Linked DNA regions of Homo sapiens: region 1 is linked to region 2. Evidence: fine-mapped expression QTL. A gene starts in region 2. The other region holds a variant in brackets. All regions are shown on one strand. Distances are from middle to middle.

Region 1 (5,376 bases), 350 kb after region 2:
CATTATTGGCCGATTTGAGGAAAGGGGTGTTGATAATAATTTCTACCTTATAGAGCTATCACATGGATGAACCGAGGTAGTACATAGAAAACTCTCAGCAGAGCCTGGATGGTACTAAGCACTTTATTGTGCTTCCAGTCGTCGTCTTTACAATGGAAATTTCAGTCTTCTGAAGGCCTTCAAACTACCCGTCCAAATATATCTTACTGTATTTAGTGAACGACTGTTCTGTCTTCCACATGTATCACATCCTATCCAGCCTATAAAAGCAAGCGGCACATGCTATTCTAGGGAGTTACTTAAGATCTCCTCCCATTCCCCTTCTATCCCGAATATTTCCAGGCAGAACTCTCCATGGCTCATGCCCATGGAGAGGGGGAAGAGATTTGGATTGTTGCCGGTTTTCATCCAAATGAAACGGGTCCCTTGAATACAGCTTGTTCTCTCCCACCTGCACTTTCAGAACCATTCTTCAGCTATTGCCTTGGTGTGGTGGGTAGGCTGTTATGTTCTCATTTTGCAACTGAGGAATCAAAAACTCAGAAAGTTTCCCTGATGATGTAGCTAGTAAGAGACCATCTTGTGTACAACTATGGCTGTCTTTGGGCCTGAATCAATAAAAGATGGTTTCCTTCCAGAGAGCCAAGGAAGCTATTTCTATGACTAATTCTCTTTCCTCATCTAAAACTAGGAGCTCCACAGTGTGGTTGGCTGATAGAACTGAGCCCAGGACTTGGTCTGGTTTTCTACCTGTATCCTCTGGTTTGCCTTTTAATCAGGATGAGTCACAGAGAAGGCATGAATGTGTGACTTTTACTGAGTAATCTAGTGCTTTGATAGGTTTTTATTTGTTTGTTTGTTTGTTTGTATGTTTTGAGATAGAGTCTCTCTCTGTCACCCAGGCTGGAGTGCAGTGGTGCGATCTCGGCTCACTGCAACCTCCGCCTCCCAGGTTCAAGCGATTTTCCTGCCTCAGCCTCCTGAGTAGCTGGGACTACAGGCTTGTGCCAGCACACCCAGCTAATTTTTTGTATTTTTAGTAGAGACAGGGTTTCACCATGTTAGCCAGGATGGTCTTAATTTCCTGACCTCATGATCTGCCCTCCTTGGCCTCCCAAAGTGCTGAGATTACAGGCGTGAGCCACTGCGCCCAGCCAATTGGATAGGTTCTTGAAAGGCATTTCAAAAGTTGTGGCTCTCTGATTTTATGATGCTGTTAGGGAAATTATATATGAGGATGATCTTGAACATGGGGCACTGCTGTCTGTGGGGTCCTCTGGGAGAATCCACCATCCCCAATCCGAACATTCCCACTGAGATTACAGAGGTCAGGTCAAGAACAGGCTGCCACGTTTTTGTGCTGAGGTGACTATAGGAAAACCTGGGTATCTCAAGGACTTTCAGAAACCATGAAGGCTTCATGTAGGAGGAGATCTTGGGAATGTAAGGATGAGGCTGGGAACAGTGGCTCACACCTATAATCCCAGCACTTTGGGAGGCCAAGGCGGGAAGAATGCTTGAGTCCAGGAATTTGACACCTAATCTCTACAAAAATAAAAAAATAAAAATAAAAAAAATTAGCCAGGCATGATTGAGTGTACTTGTAGTCCTAGCTACTCGGGAGGCTGAGGCAGGAAGGTTGCTCAAGCCCTGGAGTTCGAGATTACAGTGAACTATGATTGTGCCACTGCAGTCCAGCCAGGGCAACAGAGCAAGACCCTGACTCAAAGAAAAAAAAAAGGAATGTAAGGACGAAGAGTTTCATGGGAGGGTAGGAATAAACCAGAGCAGTTAAAAGGTACAAAAAACCTGGACAATCTAATGACTAGTTAATAACATGACCTTTTTCTCCTGCGATAAGGAAGTTATACAGGTGCCTGCAGCATGGAACACTCATGGTGAGCAGAGGCCATCAGCACTGGCTGGAGTTTTGTGTGGCTGGAGTGTGGCCACCCTGAGACATCCTCATTATCTGGGTGATTCTCAAGAGGTGATCCTTGGCATCAGTCTAATTTACTTTGAGGTGCAGGGAGGTATCGCCGCATCTGGAGGGCAGTGTGGGCTGTGTAGGTGCACACTTTGATTGGTCAGCTTCCTTTCTTCCACCGTAGGGAGGTGAGGCATCAGACTGCTCCCTGCCGTAACCATCAACTAGAGAAACCCGTCATCAATATTTGGGCTTTCCATTTGAGAAGGAAGATATGTCTTTTCCAAGCTGATGGGCTGCAGCATGGATCTGCAGAAGTGAAGCATTTGAAAGAAACCAGTGTAGAACCAGCTGGCTCAACAGGTCAGAGAGATTGCTTGGTCTAGTATTTTTAACTAATTGGACATGATCCTGTTAACCTAATTTTTGCTATGAAGTATTGGTTGTCTTTTAGAAAATGCTGACTTAGGGATAATATCCAGTAGGTATATTTAGCCAAATGAACCCATCTTACATACATCAATAGCTGCCTTCATTGTTCATGAGAATAGGCTCTTCTTAGGCCAGATGGAGAGAGCCAGACAAATTGTGAAACAGGAAAACCTTGAAGTCTTATAAAGAGAAGTTGCAGAGACTAGTATTGTTACAAAACCTAGAGAAACAGATCACTCAACATCACGACTGTTATCATCATCTATAAGGATTTTCATAGAGGCCAGATACAAACTCAGGGTGCTGTCTGTTTGTAATTTACTCAACTTTCTAACATGCAATTGCAATATGCTTTGTTTCGTGGACAACGACCCAACAACTTGAAAAGAAACTTCCTAATAGCATGTGACATTTCTGGATGTATCACTGGTGGAGACTTACGTGCTTACATGGAGGCCATCGTTTCTGACTGTGGCTTGTTGGGAACCCCCTGGCCAATGTCAGAGATGGGCTGGAAGTAGAGGGCATGTGCTGGGGTCAAGGACACCCAGTGATTTT[C/A]GGTTTGGGTGTGATAACAGAAATCAAAGAAGCCATTTGAATTTTCCAATGTCTGTGTTCTGGATCAAATAACTTAGCAGGAGGAGATGAAGTGTTACCATCCCAGAGACATCATAGACACTTTTTGAGTAGAGCCAACAAAAATGGTTTTCTTCCAGTGAACAAAAGGAGAACCCTTTTTAAGCACTGGAGAATGAGGAGCTCCACAGTATGGAAGCTGACAGAGCAGGGGTGCATGAAAGGACAGGAACCACTTAAAAGATATGTTCATTTGAATTTCTCTCATCCCTGGGATTTCAACCCCCCTGCTTTAAAACAAGTGCCTTGTTTTCTCCTGCAAGTCTTCCTTTGATGTGAGGGTCTTAGAAGAACCACTTTTACCCAGTGAGCTTGGTTCTTCTCCCACACGAAACCCATGGTTCTTGTTCTACCCCCTGCTGACTGCATTCCCATTCTCTGTAATGGGATTGTGATGTGGGGGTGGGGGAGGGAGGAGAGGGAAAAGATGGGGGACACAGGGAGGAGGTGACAGTGTCCAAGATTTTCTGTGGATCACATCCCTCCATGTGGGCATGAGGTTCCATCTATTTATTTGGCGTAAATTGAGGAGAATGGTGATTTGCAGCTCCTCTCTGTCTAGCACCATTAGCTCAGCCTCCCCTGGCTTCTTGTTGGTTTTATGTGTCTGGAAAACCAGGGGAGGGCAGCCTGTGACCTCATGTAGCATGCATATGGCTAACGGCAAAGTGAGGGAGGAATAATTATAGTAATAATCACAGTGATGACGTGGAGGGCTGCCTAGGATGCTTTCTAACATTCTTTAGAAATGCTTGACTGGCTTGTATTCATCTGGGGTTGAGTTCTTCATTCCTCAGCTCCTCGGATTTTTCATGCTTCATGTGAAATGTGTTCTGGCAGCTCATGGATGAATTGTCGCTTGTTGTGCATTTGGAAGAAACATGTCACATCTTTTGCAAACCATTGGCACAAAGTGTGAAACAAACTCAACCCCTGGTTACAGGAGGGCTGGCTGGGCCTTGGTTGGAGAGTCTGGGAGCCTCGCGGCAGGGCTGGGCTGGGGAGGCTCGCGGGTGGAGAGGAGCCAGGCCTTCTGCAGTATCCATGCCCCCAGCCACTAGCTAAACTGCCCAGGGCTCCCTGGCGGGGGGCACTGATTATGCAGGGTGCTGCAGGCATCCTCATCACACCTGTGCTCAGTCCACAACATGCAGTCCCTGCTGATGTCAGTCCTCCTTGCAAGTGAGATTTGAAATAATGTAATTCACCAGCTCACAACTGAATGGGAAAAAAAAATCAATAGTTCCTCTTTTCCCTCAGAAACATATCTTATTAGAGTGAGGAGACAGTGAAACAGCAAGGCCTGAATTGGAAAACTGATCCTGAATCTAGGATCCTGGTAGAGATTCTCAAAGAGGGTTGCGTGGAAGCAGCTGTGTGGGAGGGGTCCCATTAATGCTCTTGCCCCGGGGGTAGTGCGAGGCAGCCACCAAACTGGAGTCACGCACAGACTGCAGAGAATATCCCTGCAGCATATCAGCAGTCTCCAAGCTGCTTTTCCATTCGTGAAGATTGTTGTTCTTTAATCTCCACTTCTGGGCTTTGTCTTTCTCTCTCCTCTGTCTTTGCCTTCTACCTGACTGGTTTGCCAAGACAATGGCTTTATGGGACTGAGAGCATTAGACATCATCTGGAGAAAGAGGAGAGCTTTGCATTTTTCTAGGAAATTCTGATTTTCCCCCTCTTTTTTTTGGTAAGGACTTTTCTCTCTTTTTTAGAGATGGGGTTTCCCTCTGTCCCACAGGCTGGAGTACAGTGGTATGATCATGGCTCATTGCAGCATTTTACTCCTGAGCTCAAGTGATCCTCCTGCCTCAGCCTTCCAAGTGCTAGGATTATAGGTGCATGTCACCATGCCAGGCTAATTTTTTAATTTTTTATAGAGATGGGGGTCTTGCTATGTTGCCAGGTTAGACTTGAACTCCTGTCCTCAAGTGATCTTTCCACCTCAGCCTCCTGGGTCACTGGGATTACAGGGTTTTCTTTTCCCCCTACTCCCCTTTTTAAGTAAAGTAGACATCTTGCTTTTCTCAGGAATTCATGAGGCAGAAAAATATTTGCCAAGACAGCAAATGCAGTGAGACAGAAGTGTGTGAGCAATGCTGGCCAGATGGGTGCCCGGAGTGAGGCTTCCCTGCATAGGCGACATCTGCAGCATTCAGGACCTCCCTGCAGGTGTGCCCTCTCCACTCAAATTTATCCTGTCTGTCCTTCTTAGTTAGACTGGTGTTGATACTCATACACTAATTTTAATATCTCTGTTATTTACAAACTGTCATACTTGCTTACAATAACCCTATAAGGTTTGTTGGGCAATATATTGTTTTTATGCCCATTTTGCAGATGAGGCTGCTGAGGGTCCAAGTTCACACAGCCGTAAA
Region 2 (5,376 bases):
CTAACACACTGTGGTTGGTTGCTCAATATACGGTGGGTGGTTATTTTGATTGCCTTCTCATTTCCACAAAGCAAACACCCTTGTTTTTTAGGAATAAATTACATGTTCAAACACGATTACCAAAACCTCTTTCAGCCAAGAAGTACAATGAAAGGAATTCCTGAATATCATTTATAGATCCTGAAGTTGCGTCCCTAAAATTAATATAAGCAGATCAAATCCAAAGAGTTTAAAGGTCATCCCTCCTTCATCCTGTCCCTTATTACCTGCTAATATGTACAGTTACGTGACTTAAAACCCCAACAACTAGAACTCTTGAGGAAGGAGGTACCTATTTCCTAATAGCATCTCTATGAGAAGCATTTGCTCTAAGAGCCAGGCTGTCTGCTGTCCCTTCTCTAAGGACAGGTGAAAGCAGGAAGACAAAAGAGAAAAGAGGTCTCAGCTTAACTTGGAAAGCTAAATTAACTAAGGAAAGCAGATCAAGAAAGATTTGGGACATCATCTTCTTCAAGAATCCAATTTAAGCTTATGTCCCAACTATATACTTTGGTCAGTCTTCACAGCCCTATTGTCTCAAACTAATTTCTTTCCTGCTCTGGAGCTCAGGACTTTATGTTCAGATGTGACAATTTCTTAAAGTTGTGCCCTGACAACTTTCTTAAAAATTTTATCAATGAAAATCTAGTGAAAGACCAACGCTGAAATTTCATCAGATCCCCCTTTTCCTTCCAGTTTAATATTATTCAACTGTTCCTTTTTAAGACTACAAGAAATTAAGACTTGTGCCTTCATCCAGCAATGAAGTGGCAATAGGTAAATTAGACTCCACATTGTATTTTTCCCCACAAAATGTTCACGTTTATAACTTTCTCACTGCCTATGTTCAGTCTTTCGGGCAGCCTGAGAATCACATGTAATGACTGTCAAAGTAGATGATCTGACACACACATACAGAAAAACCACTAGTTAGAGTCAGCGTGTGTGTACAAACATGCAACTGTGATGCTCTCCCAGGTCAATCTCTCAAAACCCACAAAATCAGAGACTGATGGTGGAGGAGGGTGGCCTGGGAGCAGCCACAAAGAAAAGATCAAGATCTGAGAAGTAAAATGAAAAAGAGCTGCAAGAGAGTTGGTTAAGGACGAAAGAGTCTACTGTTTATCATGAGGGAGGAAAGAGGGAATAGACTAGGTAAGAAGTGAAGAAATCTGTGGAGGAAAAACCGCAATAGTAAAGAGAAAACAAAAAGATCTCACCAAATTGGGAGGATAAAACGAGCCCTCCTGCGCCAATTCCGTGTTGTTGTTTTGTTTTGTTTTGTTTTCCAGGAAGTTACAAAACAGTTTTCAACAGAAGGATTACATTAACAAAGCAAATAAAGGAAACTGGTGCTAAAAATGTAGCCTACCTACACTGAGAGGCCTGAAGACGGAAATACTTCTTTCCCCTTTTTGTAACGGGTTTCAAAACAGTAGGAACAGGGTGAGGGATAAGAGCTATAACAGGGGGAGGGGAGTAGCCAAGCTCTTCCTGAATACAGAGTCTTTCGACTAAATGCTTATTTTAAATGTACCTTTTTGCGGTCAGCCGGCAAATTCCTAACTGAACACAGCGTTTGACTCTCAATCGAAATGTGATGAGTGGTTCAGACACCATAGGAAATTTAACAGCTTATGCAAACACAAGGCAGATGCAGAACCAGGACTTGCTTTGGGTGGTACTCTAACACCCCTTCACTGGGTGGCTAAAACGCCACTAAGGTTTGAATTGTGACCAATAGTGGAATGGAAAAAAGAAAATAGGAAAGTTAAAGCGCCTACGTTGAGTCAAAAAACCATGCAATTAGCCGGAGAAGTTTGTGAACGGGCAGTAAGTGGAAAACAGTGGATACAAAGGGGCTAACTAGATAAACAGCTACTACAAATTCTGTCCGTCTTCCTTACGGGGAGCTACACAAGAAAGAGCGAGTCCCTTCTATATAGAGGAATGCTGCTTCTCAGCCTAGGCAGTTTCAGTCGCAGGCAGGGGCTGCCCGCCGAGAAGGGCCTGTCCAGCACAAACCCGCAGCACACACTTACTTTCGTCCGGCCATTGATTTTGTAGCTGCCCAGCTTCCCGTTACAGTGGCGTATCAGGTCGTCCATGCTGCTCATGAGCAGCCCAATGGTTTCGCAGCCGGGCTCCTTGCCCTCGATCCAGGTGATCTTATCGCCTCGGATGTCCTTGGACGAGTCACTCTTCTGGCTGACCAGCTGCCCGTCCGTGAACTTCCCGGTGTCGTGCAGGGCGCGCACCTCGTCGCCGATCTGCTGTCCGGTCTCCTTGCCGAGGAAGTCGTCCACCACACAGATGCCGTGCTTGTTCATGCACGGCACGATGTACTCGAGCGCCAGCTTCAGCGCCGGCAGGGGCTTCGTCTGCCCGTTGGGCCGCAGGCCGCCGCCGGGGCTCAGCGCATCCCCGGGCGTGTTGCTTGGGGGGTACAGGTTCGCCTTCTCCTGGAACAGCGATGAGCGGGCCGGCGGCTCCTCCTTGCCGGGCTCGGCTTCGGCAGCCACCGCCGAGCCCTGGCCGCCGGCGGCCGCACGACACGGCGACGCGGCCGCCGCTGGGTCGGCCGGGGGCTTGGCCTTTACTTTTCCCTTGGCCGCGTCCCCGGAGGCGTTGTCCCGGCGCGCCGCTGCCTTCCTGGGCTCCCGGGCCCCGGCCCTGGGCGGCGGCACTGCAGCCGGCGGCGCGGGGCCGGAATGCTGGTGTGGGCCCACTCCGTGGCCGAGGGCGCCCTCGCTGCCCTGGCACACGAGCTTGTGCTTCTTCCAGTCCTGACGCTGGTGCTCCTTGCAGCAGTAGAAGGAGCTGCGGCAGCGGCTGCAGCGCAGCAGGTTCTCCATCTTCCCGCACAGCTCGCAGTACTGCCGGTCTCGCTCGCTCGGGCTCGGCCCGCCGGGCCCGCCGCTGTCATTGGCCATGGCGGCGGCGGCGGCGGCGACGGCGACTGCGGCGGCCGAGCAGGAGGGGTAGCGGCCGGACGGCCTCGCCCGAGGCTGGGGAGCGGGGAGAGAGATAGGGGCCGTTACTGCGCCATGCACCCGCTACCCTCGCCTCAGGGAGGCCGGCACCCCACGCCCTCGGCCCGGCCGCTTCCGAGTCCTAAGCTCCGGCGCAGCGCCGGCAGCCGCCTCAGCGCCTCATCGCCGCCGAGGGCTGAGAGAATAGGGCCTGTGCGGCGAATGGCAACCTGGGCTCAGGCGCGCGGGCCTGGGGAGCGCAAGACCGGCCCCCTCGGCCGCCGCCGCCGCCTCAGCGTCCCGGGCGGCCCGGCCCAGGCTGTGGAGGAGCGCAGGGCATACGGGCGCCACTCGCTCTGCGCGCTCTGCACGTACACCACGGCCCCGCGGCGACCCGGGCGGGCGGCGCGCGAGGGCGGAGGGGGCGGAGGGAGGGCCGGGAGGGCCGGGGGGAGGGCCGAGGGGCGGGGGCTGCCTGCGCTCCTCCGCACTCGGCGGGGCCGGGCCTCGGCTTCTGCCTCGGAGGTGGGTCGCCCGCTTTCCCTCCGCCCGGGACCGGACTGGGACGCCGAGAGGCCGGTGCGCTACCTCAGCCCGCAGCGGCCTCCTCGGGGACGCCGAGGCGCAGGCCCGCGAGCGGCGGAAAGGCGTGGGGCAGCGCGGCAGCGCCTACACCTGCTGGAGGAGGGCGCCAGCCGCAAGCGGGTAGCGGAGCGAAGGCGGCGTAATCATGGCTGCTCTTCCTCCAGGCCGGCGCGGGGTGTGCGAGGCTCGCTCCAGTCAAGGTTGCAAGGTGGCTATTGCGATCCTCATTTTGCAGAGGAGGAAACGGAAATTCAGAGAAGTAAAGTAACTTGCCCAAGGTCACGCAAAACTGGGACTGAATCCAGGAATCAGGCTCCCAGATTCCAAGGCTGTTTTTTCCATTACACCATACAGCCTCTATTTCAAGAAGCCCTGAAATGGTTAAGAACAAAATAAGTATTACTATGGTGTTAATCCAATCTCTTGCGCCCCGTTTCGACCTAGTTTAAAGGTAATGAAATTTGAGGGTTTTAAAAAAAATCAAAAACTCATTTTTAAAACCTTTGAAATCCCGCCGAGTTCAAAACCCCATGAAGAAATTTTGGGCTACCAAGTTAAATGTAATCAATGCTCATTCCAATATCCAATTTAAACTGATGGGATTATTCCTGAAAAGTGAATTTTGATGGTAAATGAGCAGTACTACATTAACGACTCTCACATTTATTTTTAATAGAATCTGTGCTGCGCGGATGAATACAATTCTTTGTTTTACAGAGCATAAAAACCTTACCAGAAATAAGCCAAAGATGTTTCTTTCTGCTGCTATTTGTCTTAAGAATTAAAAGGTCTGTGATTTCGAGTTTATCAATCTTTATCGAACACTATGTGGAAAGTGGGGTGCTAGGCTTGTGTATCACTTGAGTATACTGTAACTTCAGTCCTTGAAATATAGCCTTCCAAACTTAAAAAGTTGTAATATGTATTTCAAAAGCAGGATATAAGGAATTATTGTAAACCATATTGTAGAAGTTTAAAAAGAGGCTTGAATCCAAAAATATAAAACCTCTTCATCAAATATACAGAATTTAAAACTGTTATAAAATCCTGCTGCATGCGTAAATGGCATTCTGGGGATCCAATCAAGTGAAAGAGGATGATAATTCCAATTAGCTTGTCCTTTGGGAAACTGAGATAAATATACTCACATCTTCAAATTTCAAACCGAACTAAAAATCCAAGTTTCTGTAAAGAATTTAGACCTAGACCTGTCTTATGTGTATCCTACTTTCCCAGAGCTTTATTAAATACAGTAAAATGTCATTGTTGCAGACATTACTAATTAGGCTGTTCAACAAATGCATTGAGAGTCCTTGACAAACAAATGAATTAGTCATACTACACTCAGAGACACATAGTCCAATGCAGGAGGCAGGTATGTAAACAAGGACAATCCAGAGTTCAGAGTTTCCTAAAAGAGGGATGAATAGGATGGAATGGGAACACAGAAAAAGGAATTGCTAGCTCTGCCATTTGCACTAATAAAATCCAAGCAAATTAATTCAGAAATTCTTAAAATATAAAGGAGCTATCTCATGGCTTACGAAAATAAGCATTTAAAACATTTTTCATACACATAAATTATGTAAAATGTAATTTAAATACAAGTAGAGTCTAATACTTCTTAGGCTTCCTTTTGCTATAGTAATTATACATGAGGCTTAATTATTCACAAGAGCAGGAACTTTACTAGGAGGACTCATTCCACAAACACTTGATTCTTCCAACAATTTCTTTTAAATTTGCTATTTCAGTCTGTGGTGTGTCCACAAATTATTTA

Which allele goes with the higher level. Positions count from the first base shown, and alleles are read on the strand shown. Sizes are in standard deviations (SD) of each study's normalised expression.
For the expression in prostate of the gene that starts at base 3,371 in region 2, allele A in region 1 goes with a higher level than allele C (small effect, 0.30 SD a copy in GTEx).

The links. PIP is the estimated chance that this variant, and not a neighbour inherited with it, causes the effect.
Region 1: its variant is fine-mapped to the expression of EGLN1 in prostate (GTEx, PIP above 0.99).

Annotation. Positions count from the first base shown.
Region 1 is chr1:231,772,528-231,777,903 of GRCh38, forward strand. All of the region lies in intron 6 of DISC1 (DISC1 scaffold protein), which reads left to right. The region is part of intron 10 of TSNAX-DISC1 (TSNAX-DISC1 readthrough (NMD candidate)); the gene reads left to right. Among named protein-coding and RNA genes, the nearest start is that of DISC2, 43 kb to the right of the region's middle. The variant C/A (reference allele first, on the strand shown) is at 2,918.
Region 2 is chr1:231,418,917-231,424,292 of GRCh38, forward strand. It overlaps EGLN1 (egl-9 family hypoxia inducible factor 1), which reads right to left and starts at 3,371. Exons shown (of 5, transcript NM_022051.3): 1 at 2,082-3,371. The coding sequence starts at 2,972. RefSeq lists an enhancer at 1,927-2,196 and silencers at 2,577-3,756, 3,512-3,836.